2 separate regions of the Homo sapiens genome follow, and region 1 is linked to region 2. A link means that fine-mapping ties the variant in region 2 to the expression of a gene that starts in the linked region. Tissue or cell type: whole blood. Region 2 holds a variant in brackets; the other region holds the start of a gene. All regions are shown on one strand. Distances are from middle to middle.

The links. PIP is the estimated chance that this variant, and not a neighbour inherited with it, causes the effect.
Region 1: it holds the start of MLEC, and the variant in region 2 is fine-mapped to the expression of MLEC in whole blood (INTERVAL, PIP above 0.99).

What each region holds. Positions count from the first base shown.
Region 1 is chr12:120,686,029-120,688,541 of GRCh38, reverse strand. MLEC (malectin) reads right to left here and starts at 1,393. Exons shown (of 5, transcript NM_014730.4): 1 at 1,011-1,393. The coding sequence starts at 1,245. It overlaps LOC105370029 (a long non-coding RNA gene), which reads left to right and starts at 1,393. Exons shown (of 3, transcript XR_945449.3): 1 at 1,393-1,688. RefSeq lists silencers at 1,035-1,334, 2,175-2,274 and enhancers at 1,089-1,590, 1,685-1,814, 1,905-2,014.
Region 2 is chr12:120,658,147-120,660,899 of GRCh38, reverse strand. It overlaps CABP1 (calcium binding protein 1), which reads right to left. Exons shown (of 6, transcript NM_001033677.2): 2 at 992-1,022; 3 at 561-704; 4 at 60-169. Among named protein-coding and RNA genes, the nearest start is that of CABP1, 19 kb to the right of the region's middle. RefSeq lists enhancers at 1,547-2,046, 2,047-2,548. The variant C/T (reference allele first, on the strand shown) is at 1,081.

The sequences.
Region 1 (2,513 bases), 28 kb before region 2:
CTCCTAGCAAAGAACTTCCTTCTGAAACCTGTTTTCCAATCCCTCCAACAGAAGAAACAAAGATTATAAAGCTGATCTTCCAAAACGGTGGTCTCGGGGCAACCTACATCACAAGCCCCTGGTGCAGAAACCTGGATCCCAGCAAAAAAGCTCAATCTACTATAATCAATTTCGAGTGGGGACTAGGAATCTGCATTTTTAACCAGCTGCCCTGGCAATTCTGACACACACTAACTTTGGGAAGGGAGCAGCTCCGTTAAAAACCACTGTTGCCCAGCAAGTTAAGTCACAATCATTTTCCCCCTAAGCTGGAATTAGAACTCTCAGGATCACCTAGGGGAGGTTGTAAGCATTCTCTGATAGACCATTCGGATTCTTACACTGGTTGACCCAGTTCACACACAGCCACCAGCCTCACGTGCAGGATGGCTTCGATAGAACCACCCTCTGGGGGCGGCCTGCCGATTCTACTTTTAAGCACACATATTCTTCGCTCGAAAAGAGGGCGGGGGAGGAGGCTACAATCAAACTTTCCTGGCCCATTCTCTTCGAAGATTCCTTCCTATTCTGGCTAAGAATCAAGCCCCGCTCCTGCAGAAGGGGCAAGGAAAGCGGCCGATTCCTGGGTCGACGAGAATCTCCCAAGAACTGTCTCGACAGGAGAAGCAGGGGCACCCATGACCTACAACCCGCGAGGCCTGGAGGTAGCAAAAGGCCGCCTTCGTCATTTCTCTCCCAGCTTGGATGGGAGTGAGGGGTTGAGAAAATGCAGGATGAGAAATCCAAATATAACTAACTTCTGGCCAACTCTCTGCCTGTATGACTCTAGGTACCTTGGAGCCAGTGCCAGGCCCTGAGCTCAGAGCGGGCCCCCGAAGAAGCTGCAGAGAGAAACTTCGCTCCAGAGACGCGGCCCCAGGGTCGAAAGGGGCTCGGGGCCCGCAGCCCCCGGCCGGCTGCGCCCAGCACAGCAGGCCCTGGATCCCGCGGCTCGGCAGGGGGACTCTCACCTCGGCCCACCCGGCCTTCCAAAGGGTCCTTGCGGAAGTGGATCCCGTGCACGTCCACATGCGCCTCTCCACCCGCGTTGACCGCCCAAATGACGCTCTCGGGCAGCCCGGCCCCCGCCGCGCCGGCCACGCCGGCCACGCCGAGCCCGGGTCCCCGGATCGCCGGCGGCAGCAGCAGCAGCAGCAGTCGCAGGAGCGCCACAGCGGTTCCCTCAACCGCCCAGGCTCCCAGCATGGCGGCCACCACCACGGGGGCAGCCCCCGCCGACCCTCGTCCTCGGCCGGCTGCCAGGCCACCCCGGACTCAGAAAAACAGCGCCACGGGCCGCTCCGCCTGAGCCGCCGGGGACATGTCGCTCTCAGGCCTCCTTCTTCTCAGCCACGGGTACCGCCTCCCACCTCAGGAACAACCTACCCCGCCGCCCTGCCCCCGGCCACGACGCTGCAGCCAATCAGCGCCCGGCCCTCATTAATTACCCACCACCCCGCCGGGAGGCGCCCGCTCATTGGCTGTCAGGCGCGGGAAAGGGCGTGGCTTCTCCCAGGCGCCGGCCCAGCAGTCGGGCACCAGATGGAGCGCGCGCAGAGGGAGTGAGTTCGGTTGAAGCGGCGGTTCGATGCGGAAGTGGCGGGTGCAGCGCCCAGGCGGCCCCGGAATCCCACAGCTGAATGGGAAAGGTGGCCTGGGGGGGGAAGGTTTAGGGTAGGGCGCACTGACATGTCGCCAGCACTTCCGGTGCTCTAGCTCCTGAGACCAAATAGGCTCTGGAGGGGGCGTGGCCGACTTTCCCGCCCCCTCTTCTTTTCTCAGGGAGCAGCATGAGCATAAATTCTAGTAGGAGAAGCAATGGACACTCTCCAGACCTAAGAGACGCAGTCCTTTTCCCCGCGTGAGGGAGAGGACCCATGCTTTCCCAGAGAGGCCGCGGACACAGGTCTCCAGGGAACGAATCCCATGAGAATAAGGCCCCGCCCCCTCCCCTTAGCGGGCTCGGGGCGGGTGGTAGCGTCCAGACGGCCGTCCAATGAGAAGGCTCCAACGCAGCGGAAACGCGTGGCTTTGAGAGCGAGTGGGTGCCAGGCTGCTCGCGTCTCCATGGCGACGGCCTCTGGCCGGCCTCCGCTGCGTAGGGGCGGGACCGAGGCACCCTAGGCGCTGGCGGGAGTCGCCGCCGGCGGTGCCCAGAGTGGATACCGGGGTTGTCCCGCACGGGCACGGCCCGAACTCCCTCCCTGCTCCTTCACAGTTCACCTGGCGCTCTCCCACACTGGCGATCCCTGCGCTTCGGTCGCTGTTCAAACTCCCATTTTTCCGATGGGGAAACTGAGGCATAGAAAGGGACTGAATTTTGCCAAAGGGTCGCACCGCAAGTGTAGGGCAGAGTCAAGGCAAAAACAAAAAAAACAAAAAAACGCTTATGCATTTTCCATAAATACTGGTCGATTTAGAAATTCTCCCTAAAAGGAAAAAAATGTATCAAGTCCCTGCTACCAGGGTTGTCA
Region 2 (2,753 bases):
TTTATACTGCAGATAGGATTCCAATAGCCGCCCCATGCCTGCCTGCCTCTGTCCGTTACCTCTCGGAAAGCATCTCGCAGTTCCTTTACACCAATCATATCTGCTGTCTCTGCCAGGAGTTTAGGCCCCATTAGCTCCACGAAGTCATCAAAATCTACATGGCCACCCACTGGAAAAGGAGGAAAGGGCTAGGTCATCCCCGACATACCCATTCCCTGTCTCCAACTAGACAACTGACAGAATGGACAACCCCTCCTTGACCTGCTCATCAGATAGAGACAAACTTAATAATAACAAGAGCCCTCTGTTCAGTTCTTCCTGTGAGCCAGTTATTGGGCTGTTTTACAGATATTCCCTAATCTACTTTCTGGGCTCCACTCCTCCAATTCGGCCCTCATTTTACAGGTGAGGAAACTGAGGCTCAGAGAGGGTAAGTGGTTGGCCCCAGATCACAGAGCTGGTAAGAGGTGGATGCAGAATTTGAAGCCAGTCCTGTCTGACTGCAGAGGACGGCAAGGGTGAGGACCGAAGGGACGCAGATGCCTGGTAGAGGGACTCACGGTTCATGTTGATCTGCTGGGACAGTTCGATGAGCTCCATCTCGGTGGGCATGTAGCCCATGGTGCGCATGCAGTTGCCCAGATCCCGGCAGTTGATGTAGCCATCCTTGTCCTTGTCGAATTCTCTGAAGGCCTCTCGGAGCTCTGGGGAAGTGAGCAAAGGTGGATGTGGTCAGGGGTAGGACCCGCAGAGCCTCTGTGGGCAAAGGCAGCCCAAAGGCCCACCGGCATGGAAAGAGAGGCCCAGGAGCTTCCCAGGATGCTGGGGCATTTCTCTTGCCTCCTGTGCACACCTTCAGCAGCTGGTTTCACAGAAGATACCCCGCGTTGCACCAGGCCCCATTTCCAGGGGCCTCTCTTCCCATCAACCTCCCTTCCCACACCTTCCTAGAGGGCTAGGCAGTCCTTTCCCCCAAGGGGCCAAGTTTTACCTTCAATTTCCTCTGGTCGCAGTGATCTATCCTGAAACAAAAGAACATGTCCTATTAGCCGCGACAAGGGACCTGGAAGTCACAAAATA[C/T]CTAACCTGGGGGCCATCCACGTGGCAGCAGGCACTGGGTAGGAGGTGACGAGGATGCAGCACAGGTGTGCCTGGATCAGGTCCTTGAGGGGAGAAGAAAGCCCCACATCTCCCTTAGACATAGAAGCTCCTGGGCCCCTAACAGGAGATGCCCAAGAAGCCACCAGCCCCACCAGCCTGGGCACAGAACCTCTGTGCCTCCAGCCCCTTGTTCCAGATACAAGAATGGGTCAGCAGGAGTTTGAGGCTGTAGTGAGCTATGATGGTGCCATTGCACTCTGTCACCCTGGACAACAGAGTGAGACCCTGTCTCAAAAAAAAAAAACAAAAAAAGAATGAGTCAGAGAACAGAGCTTGCCTGGTGGCAAAAACCTGCAAATAAAACAGAGTCCAGGGAGGTCACAACAGGGAAAAGAGAGCACCACCCAATGAAACAGGAAGAGCAGGGCGACAGAGGCTGCAAGACAACAGAAGAGGCGCAGGAGGGGAGGGAAGGCAGGGCCATCCTGAAGCGAGGGTAGGAGGACAGGGAGGAGTCAGGAGGAGACGTGGCAACAGAATGGGGCTGTGACTGCTTCGCGGGCACTGCCCCACCTTCTCCAATTTGACCCCCATCCCTGTACGTTCCCCTGTCATGGGATCACAGGACACCACATAGGACCCCGGGGGCCACCAGTGCTTCTGGCTGGAGCCAGGGTCCAAAAAGCACATGTCTCCAGCCTCAAGCAGTGCCCAGGTCTCCTGGGCAATCAAGGCAACCCTGAATCTAGGCGTCAGAACAGATGGCAGAGACATCTCCAAGGAGCAGGCCTGGAGGAAGCTCAGGTTGGTGAGCTGCCAGTTGCCCTGGGCCTGCCCAGGAGGGAGATAGACTGGCATGAAATGGATACAGGTGCCCAGCTGGACCTGGTTAGTAGACTCCAAAAGTGGCCTTCAGCGTCCAGCCTCCCGCATGTTGCAGCTCTTTGCCTTTGGGCAGGGAGGACACCAGGCAGGTGTGCCCGTCCTGAAGAGGCTCACACAGGTATGGCCATACCTCCCACGAACACAGACACGCAGGCATGCCACAGTGAGCGTGTGGCACCTCCACTGTGCATGCAGGCCGTTCCAGCCAACGGGGCCAGGATGAGTAGAGACAGCCACTCCAAACTGGCCCCAGGACAAAAGACGACAACACCAGAAAATCTGCAGATCATCTAGAAAGGGAAGGGCTGCTGAGTCACATCTCATGGGACAACCAGGTGCATAGGACCAAGAGCTCAGAGGTAGCTCTGTGTGGCAGGACAGCGTTGAGAGTGTGTGTGAGCTTGGAGGGAGCAGGCTGCAAGCTCCCAGCTCCGCCAGGCTGGGGGTAGGAGTCACCCATAGGGAGGCGTGTCTCTGAGATGACTGCATGGACGTTCACCTAAAAAGCTCGCTATGGGCCAGGCACGGTGGTCCACGCCTGTAATCCTAGCACTTTACGAGGCCAAGGCGAGGGGATCACTTGAAGCCAGGAGTTCGAGACCAGCCTGGGCGATATAGTGAGACCTCGTCTCTACCAAAAAACCTTGTTTTAGTTAGCCAAGCATGGTGGTTCACGCCTGTAGTCCCAGCTACTCGGGAGGCTGAGGCAGGAGAATCACTTGAGCCTGGGAGGCAGAGATTGCAGTGATCCAAGATTGCACCACTGC